5 separate regions of the Homo sapiens genome follow, and all the other regions are reported to be linked to region 2. The links are microRNA targets in miRTarBase. Many come from high-throughput screens and were not tested one by one. Region 2 holds a microRNA gene; each other region holds the end of a gene's coding sequence. Distances are from middle to middle.
What was found. Region 2 holds the annotated microRNA hsa-miR-653-3p (UUCACUGGAGUUUGUUUCAAUA, at 2,635-2,656, opposite strand). A microRNA usually pairs through its seed, bases 2 to 8, with sites in the 3' UTR of a target mRNA and lowers its output. Matches are read on the target gene's strand: a 7mer-m8 pairs with bases 2 to 8, a 7mer-A1 pairs with bases 2 to 7 and ends in A, and an 8mer does both.

Region 1: miRTarBase lists ZNF398 as a target of hsa-miR-653-3p. Seed matches in the 3' UTR shown: 8mer at 2,428-2,435, 7mer-A1 at 1,515-1,521 and 8mer at 1,308-1,315.
Region 3: miRTarBase lists CLTA as a target of hsa-miR-653-3p. Seed matches in the 3' UTR shown: 7mer-A1 at 3,545-3,551.
Region 4: the mRNA of ZNF644 is a reported target of hsa-miR-653-3p. Seed matches in the 3' UTR shown: 8mer at 2,170-2,177.
Region 5: the mRNA of RAD54L2 is a reported target of hsa-miR-653-3p. The part of its 3' UTR that is shown has no 7-base or 8-base seed match.

The regions. Positions count from the first base shown.
Region 1 is chr7:149,179,453-149,183,242 of GRCh38, reverse strand. ZNF398 (zinc finger protein 398) reads right to left here. Exons shown (of 6, transcript NM_170686.3): 6 at 201-3,790. The coding sequence ends at 3,442. Among named protein-coding and RNA genes, the nearest start is that of ZNF282, 14 kb to the left of the region's middle.
Region 2 is chr7:93,480,150-93,484,834 of GRCh38, forward strand. It overlaps MIR653 (microRNA 653), which reads right to left and starts at 2,706; the gene lies at 2,611-2,706. All of the region lies in intron 3 of CALCR (calcitonin receptor), which reads right to left. It overlaps MIR489 (microRNA 489), which reads right to left and starts at 3,870; the gene lies at 3,787-3,870.
Region 3 is chr9:36,211,583-36,215,372 of GRCh38, reverse strand. It overlaps CLTA (clathrin light chain A), which reads right to left. Exons shown (of 5, transcript NM_001833.4): 5 at 3,314-3,770. The coding sequence ends at 3,599. It overlaps GNE (glucosamine (UDP-N-acetyl)-2-epimerase/N-acetylmannosamine kinase), which reads left to right. Exons shown (of 12, transcript NM_005476.7): 12 at 1-932. It overlaps LOC124902151 (a long non-coding RNA gene), which reads left to right and starts at 1,362. Exons shown (of 2, transcript XR_007061474.1): 1 at 1,362-2,087.
Region 4 is chr1:90,913,200-90,916,989 of GRCh38, forward strand. It overlaps ZNF644 (zinc finger protein 644), which reads right to left. Exons shown (of 6, transcript NM_201269.3): 6 at 2,105-3,790. The coding sequence ends at 3,599. Among named protein-coding and RNA genes, the nearest start is that of LINC01763, 63 kb to the left of the region's middle.
Region 5 is chr3:51,662,859-51,666,648 of GRCh38, reverse strand. RAD54L2 (RAD54 like 2) reads right to left here. Exons shown (of 23, transcript NM_015106.4): 23 at 1-3,790. The coding sequence ends at 3,229. Among named protein-coding and RNA genes, the nearest start is that of TEX264, 6.5 kb to the left of the region's middle. RefSeq lists an enhancer at 3,462-3,790.

The sequences.
Region 1 (3,790 bases), 56 Mb from region 2:
GGTCCTTGTCCGTAAGAAAATATTTTTGAGAAAGAAAGATGCTTTTGTTCATGGCTACTGAGCTGCCCTCAGGCAGTCACTGAGGATGCTTTTTGTAGTTTAAGAAGCTAAGACATGAGAGGAAGGGCAGGAGTCCTGCCCCTCCTCAGAGAAAATCTGAGCAGAAATTAGGGATTCCCATTCCATTTGGAATGAGGTCCTTTTTTTTTTTTTTTTTTAATATCAACGAGGCTTGTGTGGACTGTTATTACCGAGTAAGTCACAGGGTCTGGTCCTGGTTGAGATAGACATGAACATCACTTCTCAGATATGCTCAAGAGAAGCCCAGCAGAGCCCCACACCTTCCCCGCTAATAGGAAACTTGCACACATTATTAATGAAAAGGGAAGTAGGAGTTTCCAATACTAAATGTTCAGCAGAAAAGGAGCAGGGCCATCTTCTTGCACTTTCTAGACAATCAACCAACTTCCATTTATTTTCACAACTGTGGCTAAACCAGAGGTTCATCCAATGGTGACAATGGAAAACCTAGTAAGCAAAGAGTAAATCTGGTTATAGTCAACACCTGGATCCACTCTAAGGGAATGGTGCTTATGTGTGATAGTGACAGCTTCTTGGTCCAAAAGGCTGACAGATGAAGAGCACGTTTCTGGGGTTTCCCCTTTCCTATCTTGTCTGGTCATGACAAGCAGTTCTCATGTATTTCTTTAACTGAAGTGTTAAATTGCATGGTTTCTCTCAGGAGCACTTGATAGGCCAAGAGTTTCTCCTCCACACTTTCTGTTGGACACCTTATCCTTCCCACTGATCCATTTTACTTACCCACTTTTGAATCTTAAGCAAACACTCTTTGGAACTGGCCTGCAGTTCTAACTGATAGGGGATTGATGAAAGAAAAGAGTAACAGTTGAACTCTCTTTTATTCTTGGGCTGAGGCTTAGTATCGCACCTGCTTCCGTCTCTCTGGGATGGCCTTGCACATCGCCTTTCGTTCCATCTGAGGGCTCTTCCTTCATTCGTATTTGAATTGTGTTCACTTTTTGCCAAAGTTTAGGTCCCTGCTGGCTACACAGTTCCTTTCAGAAGGGACTGCGGGATCTATCTGCAGCCATTTCAATCCACAGGTCTCTTTCACTAATAAGCTGTGTTCTTGGCAAATCTTTGAGTAAAAAAGTATTTAAAGTGTTACCTAGTCCCACATCTCACCTACTTTAGGAGTCCCTCCTCCAGCATACCCTGGCAAATGCTTGAAATCCACTCAGAAAAGGGAACTCAGCACCTAGACAATACTTTGGCTCTTCTCCCTTTTCACTGGGGAAATCAAGGTGCAAACTAGAGCTGAATCTCACATTCAAGTTCCTAGTGGGTTGCCAATGAAGCCAGAACCTTGGCTTTGGGATTCCCAGCACCCCTAAATTTTCCCATGGTATAGGTCCAGATTCTGGCTAGAAAGCTCTTAATCCCAATATGCTAGGGTATTGCCCATCATGTCTTGTTCTGTATTATTGGGCTTTTTCACTGTAAGTTATGACAGCAGACACACATTTCTTGTGTCTCCCATGGTCCCTGGTATTGTGAATGTCATGGAGCAGATGTTTTCTAAGTGTGATTATCCTACAGAGCAACATGTTCAGACATAGCCTTCCCAGAAGCAAAGTTAGCTGGGCTAACACCTTCTTCTAGTGTTGTTATGCATAACTAGAGAGAGTGAAGGATGGGCTAGGTGATGAGCAAAAAAATGGGTCCTTTCCTTATCACTTCATCAAGAAAATATCCTGTCTAAACATTTCCAGACCTTGTTCTAGACCTCAGGAAGAAGCAGAGGAAACAAGAGTATAGGAATAAACCAGTTTCCTGCCCAAGATGTAAGACTTCTGCATTCTGTCTTCTACCTCAGGATTCCAAGTGGGAGTAAAACAACAAATCAAATAAATTTTAGTCAAGTTTCAACAAGAATTTATCTGCTTTGACTTTGCTGTCTTATTTAGCTTTGCCTGGACAGAAGCCAAAGACAGAGACAGAACTTTGGCAGGAAAAGGAATGTATCACAGACTTTTTTTGAATAATTCCTAGAGGCTCACTTTTTTTCCTTTCAACAGCCTCATTGTGCAGATGAAAATTTGAGATCCATAAAGGAAACAGAACTTAGGCCCAGTTGCAAAGCCACTTAGGAGCAGACTCAGATGCTCCCAGGTGATTAAATCACCCCAAGAAAAGAACATGTGGTAGTCAAAGTCCCTAAAAGCAACACAGGCAAGAACAAACTGTTGTCTATGCATGGTGCTTAGCTCTCAGTGATCTAGGAATTTCCTCAATCTGTCCACTGCCAATGGGATACAGCCAGATAGGGTGAACATACACTCTCTCTGATGGCTCAAGGAAGCTGCATTATAACACTGTTATCATCTCACTACTGAGGACCAAGAGTTCACTGGCACTTTCTGAAGCTCCATGCTTCTGGAAAGTGCTGTGATCTTTGTTGCTGATGATTGTCAAGAATATCAGACACCAGGAATGGAGAAGCCAACTTACTGGCTTGGAAAAGATAAGAATTTGATGTGAACGACTCTCAGAACATGGTGTAGGCACAAATTTTAAGCTGTTCTGTCATTGTTAAGCCAGCTATTTCTCTGAGATCTCTAGCTTTTAAAGCTGGGGCTAAGAAAACCGTTTCCAATTTTTTTAACCAGGACCTTGGCAAAGATTTCTGGCAGTTTAAATGGCAATAAGAGCCTGTTTCAAATCAAGCCAGTATAGTTAAGGAATATTCTCCTTAATAATCTTTTAAAGTCAGATTTCTTGTTCAACCAATATTAAACAAAATTTATGTGAATAATTAATCTAAGAAACCTAGGCAGGCAGTCTTGAGTTACCATGTTTCAGGGAAAGACAGCCACAGAGGTGTGTGAACAGATCTTGGCTGGTTTTGAGAGAGGAGGCAGCAACATAAACAGTGGCTTAAGCACTTTCTCCAACAACCATCTTAGCTATCAAAGAACTAATAAAAGGCTTTATAGTTAAACATTCTCATGCCTTATGATGGGCTTCCAGTTTTGGAGGCTCTTCTCATGTATCTGTCTCTACCTAGAGACATAATCTACTATCAACCTGCTGTTCTCTGAGAACAAGAGAACTAGAGGTTAAATCCTGCTTTCCAACCTCTCCGCAATATTCTTGTAACTTCTGCTTTTGTTGTATCTTTGAAAAGATGGACATGCTGGGCTCCTTTCCAGGTCTTTCTGGGTTTCAAAATGTGGTATTCTTGTAAGGGTGTGAAATTCCAAAACACAAGCATGTCTCTAGTCAAGTGTATAGGACCCCAAATTCATTGATGTGCCAGATAATAATTACTGTGGGTGTTGGATGGGGCTCACAGACCTTCTCTTGGATTTTGTGCCCTGCTGTGAGCATATACAAGCATGAAGCCACAGAGATTTGGATTTACAAAACTCCCCCTCCACTCCCTTCCCCATACCACTGGTTGGTCTCTAGACCTTCAGTGTTGACACCCAGGCCAGAAGTTTCAAGCCCAGTTATGAGGGGACCTGGTGGGTTGGGTGGCTGACCTGATGGGTCACTATCACCCCCACAGCCTCCATTGTGGCCTGAACGGAGGTGGTCCTTGAGTGTCTGTTTGTAGCGGAAGCTCCTGCCACAGTAGGAGCAGGGGTAGGGCCGCTCCCCGGTGTGGATGCGCTGGTGTTTCATTAGGTGGTGCTTGCGGATGAAGCTCTTGCCACAGTGAGGACAACTGAAGGGCCGCTCGCCTGTGTGCAGCCGCCGGTGGTTC
Region 2 (4,685 bases):
ATTTGCATTTTGGTACAGATTGACAATAGTTTTTTTCAGTTTCAGTTAATCATCACCATCACAAGCCTCTCTTTTTCAAAGGTAATGTGGGTGTTTGAAAAGATCACTCTGTCACACTGTTCTTCCTAACTTGTGTTTATAAAGATTTCAATTTCTTTTGTGGCTATGACCAATGTTTTTAGTGGTGTTGGAATCTGCGAATTTTTAATATCCATGTTCTGCATAGAGATTTTTTTTTCTTTTTTTGAGGAGACCTAAAAACATCAGCCTGCACTGACTTTCCTTTTTCTAAATTTAGGAATGCTGCTTAATTTCTATCATACCCGTTGAAATTTCAATTCTAAGATTGAAGTTTCTCCAATTGTATTGATGGCAGAAGTGGTGTTATGTACTCTTCTATATGTGCTAGTTTCTAAACAAAACTCATCCCTATTAAGTTGACATGTATATTCCTGGCTCTTCATGGTGAATCCTCACTGTTTTCCATGTGTGTCATTGTATATGTCCTACACGACAGCACATCACTAACTGCTAAGCTGTCCAGCACAGAATCCAATCAAAATTCAGAGTTTGGAGAGAGTAGGGAGCAAAAATATTCAGGATGGCTACAGATACAAGGTAGAATTTGAATTGTATCTTGAGTGTGGGAAGTTTCTGCATAGGCACAAGGGGGGGTCGAGAAGCCTTTTGGGATGGAGGGACCTTTCCCACAAAAGTCTGGAGGTTGGAAATGACATGCATGAGCCACTGTGAGAAAACCATCTTGCCTGAAGGGGAGCATATTTGAGGGTAAGAAGGTCAGGACTTTGCTTTCAAGACTGCATTATCTGAATCTTCAGATAACAAAAAAAGAGTTAAAACTTGTTTTGTCACTTTGAGCAGGTTAGCAACCTCTCACTAGATCTGTTTCCTCAACCTAGGAAACGTAAAATAAGAAGAGCGGTAAGAATAATATTTATCATCTGTCATGTTGTGAGGATGAACAAGACAATAAACACCAAGTGTCAGGGACATGAAAGGTTCAAAACATTTTAGCTAATATTGTTAAAACATGGTATATAACATAATATATATGATAAAGATGTTTTGTAGATTTTTGATCAGTGAAGGTTGTGAAAGGAGAATTTTTAGTAAAATTCATGCAGCAGGCATCAGATGTCCACAGGTTAAAGTTGCGGGGTGGGGTGGGGGCAGCCAGGAAGTTGAAGGCCTGGCTGGACTAGATCAGTCCATGTTGGAACAAGAAAGTACCACTCTTAGCACCTTCTCAATAATAAAAACATGAAGGCATATTTGAATACAAGGAATGGGAAACAGTAATAGTCAAATAGCCCAGATAATTAGCCTAGATATTTGGGGAAAAAAATAGTTCCCAAGAAAGGGAAGATGCTGGGAAAGGAAAACCTTATTAGGGGGAACTTCTCCCCCTTGGTAAGTAAGTCCTATTTTGGGTTAGATTTGGAGATGGTAGCAAGCCATCCTAGTGGAAATATCTTGCAAAGAGAAGAGGGTGAATACTTATCATTATTATAACATTACTGTGATAACTTCAAATGGACACCAATTGTGAATAAGGTTGACACTACTCTTTAAACATTTTGTTGATTTCTAATTTTAATGTCTCTTGAATTTATGTCAGAAGAGAAAGTAATGAACCCATAAAAATGATTATAACTGTGCAAATCCTTTACCAGTGTAGCTGAACACAATTCTTTTGATATATGACACTTTCCCCACTGGTCTTCAGATCAGTCAGCAAATATTGATCAAACTTGATGAGCCCAACATTGTGCCAGATGCTGAGGATACAGTGCTGAATAAAATAAGTGTAGACTGTGCTCTCATAGAGCTTACAGTCTGGCAAGATGGACCAACACTATAAAATATATTTCTGATACTTGAAATTATGAACAATAAAGAATCATCAGTCATAAAATTCTTAGATATTCCTAATGGAATTGGAACACGATTTGCAAAATTTTTAAAAAAGAGTAATTTGAAGGGATTCCATGTTGAGGTTTCTTTTTTTAGTTTATTACTCAACTTTTGTATGAATATGTGTGTTTTAAAAATTCAATTACATATTAGGCAACCATCAAAACAAGAATGGATCATGATGCCTTCACAATAGAGATATTAATTATTGGTTCAACTTATACATTTATTTTAGATTCTTCTTTTGTGGCTCTAAAATCTTCAGTTAATATGAGAATGATCATTTGATGTATTATTAATTTCTGGACCATTTTCTCACCATCTTCAAATCGAATTAGAAGATGGAACATGATGTCATATATAAATCTTATCTGTCACTTGTATTAGATATGCTAAACACTGGGAAGTATTTTGTTTAAATCTGGCTTTCTTCCCAAAAGTAACATTCTGAATTCTCTTTTTATATGGCTGACAACCAACCAAGAGATTTTCTTGCTCTAGTTGGAAATTCATGGAAACCATAGGCAAATAGTATGTCCGAGGATAACAAGTAGAAAACCCTATGCTTGTATTTTCAATTATATTTTTATTTGCTTTAATGCAGTTTTAACATCAGTAACAGTGGAAATACGACAATCTGTATACGAGTAGTTATAATTCATGCTGATGAAAGTAGCTTCCATCTTATCATTCTTGCAATATTGAAACAAACTCCAGTGAACTTGTTTGAAGCTGGTTCAGTAGAGATTGTTTCAACACTGAAGGAATGAAAAATTAGAACCTCTGTTGTCAGATGAGCAGTAATAATCTGCATCAGTTCCTGGTCTGGTTCATATTTGAGCACTGAAGATGGAATTTTCCCAACAGTAGATGAATGTCTCAGTGGCCTTCTTCCTAAAATAACATACCCATTGGGGCATTACGTTTATACATACAGTCATCCCTTGGTATACTCAGGGGATTGGTTGCAGGACCTCCTGTGGATACCAAAATCTGAGGATGCTTAGGTACTTCATATAAAATGGTGTAGTATTTGCATATGTGGATACCAAAATCTGAGGATGCTTAGGTCCTTCATATAAAATGGTGTAGTATTTGCATATAACCTATGTACATCCTCCTGTATTATTTAAATCATCCCCAGATTATTTATACCTAGTACAATGTAAATATGATGTAAATAGTTGTTATACTGTATTATTTAGGAAATAATAAAAAGAAAAATAGTCTGTATGTTTACAATACAATTTTTTCCTGAATATTTTCTATCCAAGATTGGTTCAATCTATGGATGTACAACCCATGGATACAGAGGGCTGACTGTATAGATAGATAGATAGATAGATAGATAGATAGATAGATAGATAGATAGACAGACAGATAGATAGATATAAACATATAAATATATGTATATGTATGATTTTATGTATATTATATATATATAATTACAATCATGGAATTACTACTGCTTAAAAATAACACATATACAAATTTCATAAAGTTTATTAAATGTTAAACTTTTGCTGATAATTTTATACAAATAAGAATTGCTGGGAAGGTGGTATCATTTTCAGCAATACAGAGACAAAATAAAACCAGTAGTGATTGGATGAAACTACCAAACAATGTAAGAGACTTCAAATATCCTACTTATTATAAGTGTTATGTCTATACTACTTATTTCAGGGGGTTAAATAAAAATATGATTATATGTTCACATTCAGATAGAAATGAGATATTAAGGGCATATTGTTTTTCTGAATAAACATCAGTTTTCAAAGCTTTGCATATAAACCATCTTACATGATTTTTCAACATACAAACAAACAAAACTCTTAATTGTTGTCCCATGTAGCAGTTTAGCTGCCGTATATGTGATGTCACTCCTAAAGGTTCAAGTAAATGGCGTCACACATACGACCACCAAGCTGCCACCAACAGCAGTAGTCAGCAGCCCAAACATCATCAGTTTTTTTCAGTCGACAAATACTTTGAGTGCCTCTCACATGTCAGGCACTCTTCTAGGTTCTGGAAATTCAGCAGTGAACCAAACTGGCAAGCCACCTGCTCTCATAGAGCTTACATTCTTGATTTTATCCACACTAATCATGGAATCCACAGGAAAGGAATCTGATTTGAAATGGTCATATGCTTATGCAATTCCTACTGTGATGTAGGACAGTCAGTTTGCTTTTGGGTTACAGGCAGTTTCTAGAAGTACAGAGACAGTTACAGAGCTGTTCTTCATGGAACTTTGAGAAATGGTCCATCTCTGCAATAGTTCAAGCCCACTGAGTGTATGGACCCAAGCTGCTGTGCTGAAGGGAGAGCTTCCTATTGATTGCCACATGCAAAACTACTCTAAAAAGTATGTAAACCTAGAATCCACAAACTGATGCAACCAATGAGATTTTCATGTCACCATCCTTAATGTTGATAATGTATATAATTATTTTTGCTTTTCAGTTACTTACACATTTCAAAATAAGAAAGGACAAAGCACACTGTTGTAAAAAGTGTTAGCCCTGGTTTTCCCAGGTAAGATCAGATGCCTGGCTGGTGTACTGTGTAATTCTACTTACATTATATAAACAACGAAACTGCATATATCATAAATTCAAAGCAAATAGGTGAACATAGATAAGTAAACAAGTAACAATAACACCTGCTCTGAAGAACCTAATTTTTATGTCTTTGTTATTACCATTGGCTTTGTTGTCATCAGCATCGTCACTGGCATCTTTTTCTGA
Region 3 (3,790 bases), not on the chromosome of region 2:
TCTGCTGTGAAATTTTACCAGTATAGTATTTGGTCTAGTGACAGGTGTTCTATTTTTTTGAGACGGGTCTCACTCTGTCACCCAGGCTGGAGTGCAGTGGCTCAATGCAACCTCTGCCCCCCAAGTTCAAGTGATTCTCCTGCCTCAGCCTCTTGAGTAGCTGGGATTACAGGCACATGCACCACGCCCGGCTGATTTTTTTTTGTATTTTTAGTAGACAGGGTTTCACCATGTTGGCCAGGCTGGTCTTGAACTCCTGACCTCAGGTGATCCGCCCGCCTCTGCCTCCCAAAGTGCTGGGATTACAGGTGTAAGCCATCACACCTGGCCCTAGTGACAGGTTTTTATGGGTACTTTTAGATGATCTAAGAAATCATGTGCATATATCTTTCAGATTTCTATTTTGGGAAAATGAAGGTTTCTACAACATATTGTTTCAGTGTTCAAATAAACTGAAGGACTCAACATTACATTTGAACTATATCCTTCCTAGTGGGTTAGTGTGAAAAAGAGTTTGGCTGATTCCTAAAACTCTGCCAGCCCTGCAGTAATCTCCAGGGCCTGGTTATTGTTCAGACATTCCATGGTGATTCCTGGGAAGGAAGCTTGGCTGCTCAGTTTCTGAGTCTGGGGTGAGATAATGTTCTGGGAAGGGACATCTGTTCTTTGGTGTAATCTCTCATGGTGAAATCTGCTCTGTACATCAGACAATTGCATTGCTACCAAGTTTCATACCAAATATTTGAAAGGATGGTATTGAATCTAAAACCAAATATTAGTTTTTATTAAACTCATGGGAAGGCTAATATATTCCAACGTAAATTATTACATATGGTTAAGTAATTGCATGTTAATTTATTTTAATGTAAATATTTTTGTTACTGTTCTGAGCCAAATTCTAAAGAAAAAATAAATACATTTCCTTGTTGAAATCCTGTTGTATTTTGTTTTGTTCGTAACTCATTAGCCAAAAGCATTTTCCTTCCCAGAAGAGATTTAATTGTTGCACTGCTTACGTTTTGAAGGTTATATAACTTCCTTAAGGCCTCTAATATCATTGCTTTCTTAACCAAAAAAAGTCTATTAATAGAAAGCATGGCTGGGCATGGTGCCTCATGCCTGTAATCCCAGCACTTTGGGAGGCTGAGGCAGAAAGATTGCTTGAACCCTAGAGTTCGAGACCAGCCTGGGCAACATGCCAAAACCCCATCTCTACAAAACAATACAAAAAAAATTAGCCAGGCATGGTGCAGTCTCAGCTACTCAGGAGGCTGAGGTGGGAGGATCACCTGAGCCCGGGAAGTGGAGGCTGCAGTAAGTTAGTTATGATCATGCCATTGCACTCTAGCCTGGGCGACACAGTGAGACCCTGTCTCAAAAACAACAAAAACAAAACATTGCTATATATAACATTGAAAATTTGGCATAAAAAAGCAAAGTAGCCCCCAAGAAAGAGGTTTGAAACTAAGTGTTAAGCATTTACTGAGTCCCTAGACCCACTCCCTCTTTTTATGAGGCCCTATGTGGGTCTCATACAGGCATTAGAAACAATCCCAAATTACTATTGCTGTGTAACCTCAAAACTGAAGAGCTTAAAACAACAGTAATTGTTTCACGTCGTGGTTTCTGTGGGTCAGGATTTGGGAAAGGCTCAAACTTGACAGTTGTAGCTCAAGAGTATCCTGCACTTGTAGTTGTCAGCTGGAATAGCACGAGGCTGGCTGGCCAGGCATCTCCCAATGTGTGTGGTTACAGGGTCTCTCAGGTGGCCTCTCTGTGGGCTAGTTTGGGCTTCCTCACCACATGGGTAGCTTCAAAGGTAGAATTTTTTATGAGGCGGCTCAGGGCCACCAGCTAGTTGCTCCAACAAATCAACCATCAGCAGCACTGCCTTTTATGACCTAGCCTTGGAAGTCATCCCAGCATCACTTTTGTCACATTATTCAGTCACCTCTCCATCTAGAGAATGTCACAGATTTTGTTGACATTTAAAATTGCCACCTCCCACCTCAAGAAGCCCAGCTGGTGTGGGAGGCAAGACTGGTCCAGACGATGGCACCAAGACTACCAAAAATAAGCTGCCCCAGGTAGATGGCCATGGGAGTTCAGGGGAAGGGGGGTGGCCTTTGAACTAGTTCTTAAATTGGATTTTGACATTTGGAATGGGATTAGCAGGTCCCGTAGGAACAAAAGTCTGGGAACAATGATTGCTTGATTGTAATAAGATTTGACTAAAGGGGGAGGAATAAGCAGAGGCCAGAAATGTGGGCCAGGTCAAGGAAAGCCCAACTAAGCTTGGAAACGGGGAGGTAGCAGGAAAAGTAATGAAAGCTCCTTCCAGCCAAAAATAATTAACATTGAAGAGATAGTGGCCTTTCCTTCTTGGCAATGGCAACACCTAACCCCCATCCTGAGCATAGTATTACAGTTTACCTCAATCTCCAGTTTGGAAGTACCAGGTAGTTATAAGCAGATTACTGAAATATAGCTTTAATAATTGCTTGGAACATCACCTAAAACGAGCCAGGTACTATGCCAGGTTCTGAAGACAGATAATGAACTTACTGGTGTCTGAACAAAGCACGGGCTCCTGGAAACACCTGTGGTAGATCAGCATGGTCCAGTGCAGCTTTCTGCGACCATGGACATGTTCTATAACCTGTGCTATCCGAGTGCCACCTAACCACATATGGCTACTGAGCACATGAATTGTGACTAGGACTAGAAATGTATTTTAAATTCATTTAAATAGCCACATGGGCCTGGTGAATACTGCACTGGACAGCACAGGTCTAGATGAAGGATTTTACAAGAGAAATATGAACCAAGTGCTTGGGATGGCACAGAACCCAACATGTGCTACAGGACTCAACAGTAATGGGGCTAGCCACACATGAATGCCGTCCTGACTCAGGCTTACTGGCCGGATCCAAAGGAGTCAAGGTCTTACTAGAGTCTACGTGCCCCACAGACTCCTGCCGAAATATACTATCCAAGACCCTAAACTGAGGGACACTGGCAAGCAAGAGCCCATCTGGGAGAAAACGACTAGGTTGGTGAGAGGATTCACAGCTGTGTCTTAGGTAGATAATGAGGGGGTTAACCTTCAGCCACTAAACTCCCTTCTCAAATGAAAATGTCCACAGGATCCCACTCTAGATCCCGGTGCTATCTTAGTTCAAGGCAGGGCTGTGTGCCCAGTGGCTGTGCCTCCTCAGCCCTAGAAATTTCAAGGAAATTCCTCCTGGAAATTCCTTCCAACCTCACTCCAAACTACAACACATCTTGAGGTCAATAAAGAAGCTTCACATAATACAGTTTGAAACAGAAATTTATTCTCAGAATAATGCACAGAAGCACAGGTTGAGGCTACTCTTGGGAAGCTTCCCTCCCCTTCCTCTTCCTCCTCTCCCTCCTCTCTGAATGCCAGGGAGAACACAGTTGAAGGAAGGAAACATGCAATCACAAACAATGAACAACTCTAAAGACAAAAAGGTTTGGTCCAAAAGAACTCAACATAATTAATCCAATGACTGTGAAGAGCTTCACTGAGTAGGATTAAGATATTGCAGATGTAGTGTTTCCACAGGGTGGCTCTTCAGTGCACCAGCGGGGCCTGCTTGAGGGAGATGAGGACTGAGCGCATGCGGGAGACATCTTTGGCCTGCTTGCTAGACTTGGGGTTAAAGTCACACAGCCGGGCCACCCGTTCCCACTCAGTGCCTGGGGACGACTCGTCAATGTCATTTACAAAGGCTTCTTCTGCTGCCCTGGAAGCAACAACAAAATA
Region 4 (3,790 bases), not on the chromosome of region 2:
CCTGGGCTCAAGTGATCCTTCTACCTCAGCCTGCAAAAGTGCTGGGATTACAGGCGTGAGCTACTGTGCCTGGTCTATTACATTTTCTTAGTGAGGAAAAACCCAGAGTGATCCTTTGGACTTTGTATTCTAATTGGACAGTCCTTGAGAAGTTATGTATATGTCCTTTAAAAAAGTTTGTCTAGTAAATTACTGAGAAATCATTATCTCCCCAACCCATAATTAAATAAGTAAAATCTAAAATACAGATATGAGTTATGCCACAGTTCTAATATACTCTAAAGAAGTATAGTGGAAAATAATACATAGAAGTTAACCTTTTTGTCTTGAAGCCATTAAATAAATCAACACTGCAGCCTGGAATTTTTTTTTTTTTTTGAGACGGAGTCTTGCTCTGTCACCCAGGCTGTAGTGCAGTGGCACCATCTTGGCTCACTGCAAGCTCCACCTCCCAGGTTCATGCCATTCTCCTGCCTCAGCCTCCCCAGCAGCTGGGACTAGAGGCGCACGCAGCAACGCCTGCTAATTTTTTTGTATTTTTAGTAGAGACGGGGTTTCACTGTGTTAGCCAGGATGGTCTCGATCTCCCGACTTCGCGATCCGCCCGCCTCGGCCTCCCAAAGTGCTGGGATTACAGGCGTGAGCCACTGCGCCTGGCCCAGACTGGAATTTTTTAAAGCCCTAATTTAGCATTAGAAGCTTGCATATCTCAGGCAATGGTAAAAGAATTAAAAGAAAATTAGTCAATACTGAATGATAAATCAGGCCATATGCTGACATAAAAATCTATCATGTAAATTGAGACAATATTTTATACTTTTCTTCTAGTGGGAACCAAATGAAAACATATTATTAATTTTCTAGTTGCCAAATAAAAGACGAATTTTGAATGCTTCCTAAAGAATTCTTTAAATTTTGTAACCCAAATATCTTTACTATGAAAAATGCTCTTTGCTTAATTTACTTTTCAGGAGTCACTCTAGTCTACTGTTTCTGATGTGAAATATTTTATTCTGATGACTGAATTCTTTATATAACTAGAAGGAGAAATAATTGTTTACATATAGTTCAACATATTTTAAAATTAAATGTAGTTTTGATTCCGAAACTTGTGGTCAAACTAATTCTTCTACTTGTATTCACACATGTTGATATTTGGCCTGATAAGACAAAATCATAGAAGTGTAAGAATTAGGAGGCCAGGTGTGGTGGCTCATGCCTGTAATCTCAACACTTTGAGAGGCGGAGGCGGAAGGATCTCTTGAGCCCAGGAGTTCAAGCACAGCCTGGGCAACATGGTAAAACTCTGTCTCTACGAAAAATACAAAAACTAGCCAAGAGTGATGACATGTGCTTTTAATTCCAGCTACTTGGGAGGCTGAAGTGGGAGGATCACTTGAGTCCTGAGAGGTTGAGTCTGCAGTGAGATATGATCACACCATTGCACTCCAGCCTGGGTGACAGAGTAAAACTCTGTCTTTAAAGAAAAAAAAAAAGAATTAGAGTGGAAAGGGGCTCTAGTGATTACTAGCCTTCCCACAAGATTCCTATGATTTTTGTTTGTTTGTTTGGTTTTTACTTCTGGACTCCACTTGCTATGTAGTATGTCTTCCAATTTAAAAATATATATTCAAAGACATATAACTATCAACGAAACTTGTTCAGTAAGAGATAACCAATATATACAGACTTGGTATATTTTCAGTCAAAAGTAAAGAAATGGGATGTTTTAGTTAGTTTTGTCACTATAGACAAATACATAGTTTTTATCGGGACTTTTGTAAAATTGAAAATAACTTACAAGTACTATTCCCTTATCTATTAACCTAAGGATCAGGAGACCCTTGGTTGGGAATGATCCAACTAGTCCAACCTTCTAATTTTGCATATAAGATGGCTCTGAATTTAGAGGTTTGATTAATCATGAAAGGGGGAAAATGATTTTTCTCACATACATTATATTGACCAATGAGGTGATTCTAGAAAAACTATGCTCTGTGATCCAAGTAACCTGGCAAGGATAAACAATTTAAATCCAATGAAACACAACCTGAAGTGAACTATTACCACCAATGATAAAAATAAGAAATGTTTCACATTTTAATTTTCTTTAAACCTTTTTTTATTTAGAGATTTTTCTGGTAAGGAGATATACCATAGGAAAGCAATTTCACTGGCAGTGAGGTATGTATATACTCTACCAAAATACTCCTTATTTTAACTGTTTTTAACTTTATTTACATACGAAGCAAAGAATCAATGCATATCCTTGGTTCAACTATAGTATTAGCCATACTACATGAAATAAAATGGTGCTTGCATACAAAAACTTGTTGTTTGTAAAGGAATCTGATTTCAGATTAAAATACCTAATTGTTTTTGGAAAAAATTTTTAAAAAGAATCACAATTTATCATGACCAAGACACCTGCACCATATTTTCCATTCCTCACAGCACATTTATTTCAGTAATTCTGTTATGTCGGTTCTTAGCATGAGCATAGTGTTACACGATTTTCGTACATATAATCACATCCAAAACAAGTTCTAAAATTTAAATTGTAAACATTCTCATATGTAGAAATATTTTAATTGGTGTATTAAGTTTTGCTAACTGATCAAATTTGGAAGATAATATAAATGAGAACGTCTATTCTAAACTGTGTAGTGAGCATTGTTTATTAATTACATTTCTACAATGTTAAATAAAGTAAGAGGCAAACCTGTCCTGTAAGCATGTCAAATTTTAGGTAAAACATTAAAAAGAAACAAACCTGTTAACAAAAGAATGTCTTGCAATAAAGAACATTAGATTTTTAAAATCTATTATGATACAAAAATGTAAAGGGTAAATAGCATCTTTGTTGACAAAGTAGGAGGTAGCATGGATGCACCACTTTATTGTCTGAGAAATGCAACTGGAGTAAAGAATATTTCCTTACCACAAATAATTTCCAGAACTATGTACATATTTCTTTTAGAAATACTTGTTTAAACAAATCTCCCTCCACTTTTTAGTATAAAAAAAACCGTTCCATGTGATTTTAAAAAAAACACTTACACATCTAGATAGAATAGTACTCTGCCCTATTTGAGTGAACAGTCTCAAACTATGAAGTACATGATATTTAATGCCCTAATTTGAGTAAATTTAGTCAGCGGTTCTTGGTATTATACAAAACACTAAATACATACAAACAAAATATAATATCTTATTTTTCTATGCAAGTCTTGTGGGGAATAAACAGAGCCTTGATTCTGGTAACACTGCAAAAAACATAATTGTCCAATAAGTCTGTCTATAAGTATCCATGTGCAACAGTTTATTAATGGCTGCTTACATGTACTGCTCTTTTACTGAGTGAACACAGTTAACCAACAAAACTTCATAAACCTTAAAAACACATCTTCCACCCTATATAAAATATATAGACTACTTACTGTTTTAAGTATTCAATTTGCTCTGATGTCACTGTAATTCACTTTCCCCCCATTTTCCTGCTTTAGTATTTATAAACAGATAATTTAATGTGGCTTAAAAAAAAAGAATTTCAAATTTACATCCAATTCAAACTGGCTATTTAAAAGGTTTCCTGGTTCTATGAAGCTGCTTCGGCCATTAGTAGAGAAAATGAAGTTTCTGTAATGGAGGCAGGCTTTTTAAGTAGTGACGTGACTTCCACCATGCCAGCTCCAGTCCGTGGAAGATTAGCGTTTACAATATGTCGTTGTAAGTGCTTAATCCAGTCTTCCTGAACAGACAAGGGTCCTCGAAAGACTAGGCCACAAAA
Region 5 (3,790 bases), not on the chromosome of region 2:
AGCTACTTTGTCCCTGTTCAATTTTTATCTACAAATATATTAAGAAAAGGAAATCAAGCATCACTATAAATGGTAAACCTCAATCATTAAGTAGTACTGTGTTCCCCAGGCTGAGAACTTGGCTAAACCAGATGAATGGGGCTTGAGAGGCCCTTGAAAACATTCCATGGAAGACAATGGTAAGGGAAAACGCCTAGGCCTGATTTTCTGCCCTCCCTCTTATCACCAGCCACCCTGCCCCCCTCAGGCCTGGATAATGGGTGGAAGACACCACCAAGTGTTTATGATCAAAGAAACTATAAAACATGGTTCTTAGGCTCTGAGATACTTCCTGCTTCCCTCACAAACATGCTTATGTTTGGTGTGCATGCACATTTGCCTATCAGCACATATAAAGAGACAGTGGAAAAGTCAGAAGTGTTTTCAGGTTATTTTCTTTAAAAAAAAAAAAAAAAAAAAAAAAAAAAAAAAAAAGCAAAAACCATGGACCTGGTAGCACTCCAATTTCCCATGATCCCACCCCCAACCCCTCTACACAATAGAAACTGCACATATAAAAGAAAGCCTTCTCTAGTCAGGTCAGCCTCCCAGAATGATGGCCTCTGCTGAGTAGAAGCAAGACCCAGTCCCTGGAACACTGGATAGACAGTAGGCATGTGCTGCCTCTCAGAATACCCATTTACTTTCTGTCAACTTCAAAAGCCAAGCCCATCCCTCCAGGGAATGGTTTCAGTTCCCGGCTGGGAAGGTTTCCGGATTCTTGGAGGCTAGTACAGTGATTTCCTAGAAGTGAACACAGAAATACTACCCCCTTCTCCCGACAACACACACACACAGACATACACATGCACACATGCATCTCTGGGATCCCAGTGCTCCAGGGCCTGAGAGGCATCAGTGTAACCCAGGTTCTGAGTGTGTCCCATAAATTGGAGATTCAGTCTAGCTCACTCCTACTGCACCAGCCTCAACCTGAGAGCTCACTCCAACTGAGTCCCTTCACCATCCATTCTTGGGATGCATCTGAAAGAGAAAGCACTGGTTGGAACTGCTATTTTTAAATTATTAAAATAATTTGCATAGCTAAATTGTAGATCTAAGGCTTCCATGAGTAGAAGAGTTAAGTGTCTGGCAGGGTGCTTATGAAAACACAAAGCTTCTTAAGTTCCACTTTTGGTGTTATTGGACAGCAGACAAACACACATATACACATGCACCCCATCCATCATCTCCTTGTCTCTTCTCTGAGGACAATACCCCAGAGTCTGCTAAGGCCCTCCAAAGATGGAAATGGGCTGGTCAGAAGAGCTGTAGGAGCTACTACTGGGATGACCTGACTAAGCTGCCTTCTGGGCTGGGAAGAGGCAGGTACACCACCTGCCCAGTAAGGAGGGAGCCATGGGTAAGTGGTAAAGCTCTAAAGCCAAAGTTTGTTCATCATAAAGAACTGTCTGGCAAAGTGTTGGGGTGGGGGATACAGAGGGGGCGGGGACACCAGTAGGAAGACAGCCAGTGTTTATGCTTAAGGACTAGACGACCCTCCCCTGGCAATGGCAATAAGGGGAGACCCAGAATGACTGGTGTGTTCTTTTAAGATAAAACCCAGACTTAGGGCTCCTACAGAGAAAGGGCTCCTCCATGTTCCTTCAAAGATGGAGGCAGCAGACACCAGGCCTACATGGACCACCTGAAGATATTTTCGAACATGAAATCAACAGTCCCTCAACCCAGCAACCGCCTATCCACAGCTTCACTATTCAGCATAGAGAGCCAACATCTAACATCATCCCAGGAGGACACAGCTCCAAATCTGGGGTCTCTTACTTCCCAATTGCAAACTCCATGATCACAACTTTCGATTTCTGTGGAATGAGTCCCACCCTCCACTAACTATCCAGTCTCAGGATTCCCTGATCTTCCTGAAAAGCCATCTCTCAAAAATATAGTTGTTTAATCCAAACCTTGGTCAAACCTAACTCTTCCCCTGGTCAATTTACCATCCATCCAGGATTGTTTTTCACCAGTGGCTATAGGGTCTGGGATATCTTAAAACTTCCCTTTCTATCACCTACCCTCCTTACCCCTAACCTCCCCCCACCCCCAAATAAACAAGACACATGAAAAGTCCAAGTAATAAATAATTGCCCATAAGAAATAAATTAACATGGAGCTCTCTAAAGGGGAAGGAAAGGAACAGAAAAGACTACCAGGATAGGCAGCTGGGGGCTCAGTTCTACCCTGGTGAAAAATGTATTTTCCAGCCACAACTCTGCGACCTTTCATTCACGTACTGCAGTGCTTCTCCCTCCCAGCCTCTGCACACAGACAACCTTCCAAGCTGGAAAGGGAGAGCTGCTCAGAGATAGCCACCGGGGTTAAGAGACATAGATTGGTAATGCCCATTTTCTCTCATGAATTTCCCCAAATTCTCACACAAATGTGGCTCTGAATACCAGGGACTTGAGTTAGCTGGGCCTTCTCTTCACCCATCCCGAAGGAAACTTGTTATTTCCATGGCTCTTCTGGGCTCACCCTGATGTTCACACTAGGTGCCATGAACCACCAAACTGACTTCCATTTAAAGAAAGATAAATTCATTTTTCAGTTTCCCTCTTAGTTCTTCCCTCCCTCCCCTCCCACCTTCACCCCTGCTCTGTTCCATACATACACATACAAAATAAACATACACACACACACTCACAAACACACATACCTGGTCAGCTTCCTTCCCACCCCCTAAAAAGACCCCACTTCACATGGGATCACAGTCTGCTCCCCCTACCCACCCTCCTTCTCTCACTCATTCTCCCTTCCTTCACTCCCCTCCCCAGGCCAAGCTAAGTCACCTAGTAAGGCAGCTCTCTTGGGAAAGAATGTTCCCAAAGACAGAAATGGGATGTGCGCTTCTACACTCAGATGGGCGAGCAAGCAAGCAGACAGCATAAGCAAGGCAGGAAGGAAAAGAGGCTGCACTGCCCCTCCATCCCTGTTTTGGGTCCCTGATTTCCCGCTATTGCTGCTGTGTTGGACTTTTTTTTTTTTTTTTTTTTTTTTGCCTCTTTTGTTAAACAGCAACAGAGCTCTGCCACTTTGGCCAACCACCCTCCTTTGTCCTCTTCCTTTTCCCTCCTGCCAAGTGTCCTATTCTCAAAAGGTCTAAATCACTGCCTTTCAGCTTGGTGGGCAACCTGCTGGGGGCCCCAAGTGAGGTGGGGAGGGGCTCCCTAGCTATTTCCCAGTGACCTCTATCACATCATCGTCTTTATCCTCATCATCATTGGAGCTGAACCCAACCTCGGCAACCTCATGAGAGTCAAATGGAGGCACCTGGGACCGTAGGAGGCCACCAGCTGGGTAGCCTGCATGTGGGGACATGTAGCCTGGATAGATAGACATGCCCCGCGAAAGGTTGCTGGGCAAGACAGGGGAAGGAAAAGGCGCAAACATCCTCGGCTCGGACAGGAGTGGCTGTGAGAATGGGAGTGAATAGCTGGGTAGTATCCCTGGCACAGAAGGGTTGAGCATGAAGGAGGGGTTGCTGGCAGTGACTGAGGTAGCCGTGGAAGAGGAACTGACGGGGCCTGCTGGCACCAGAGGGTCAGTAGTCACTGGAAACACCAGGCGGGCATCTGCCAGCAAATTGGACAGCTGGTAGTAGGAGGGGGTACTGCCCATAAACAGGGAGTTCTCCCCAGCCTGGGAGGTGAAGGGGGTGGTGAGGTTATGGTTTAAGGAGACGGGTGGCATGGCAAACCCGCCAGAGACTGGATACCCGTGTTCATACGGCTGC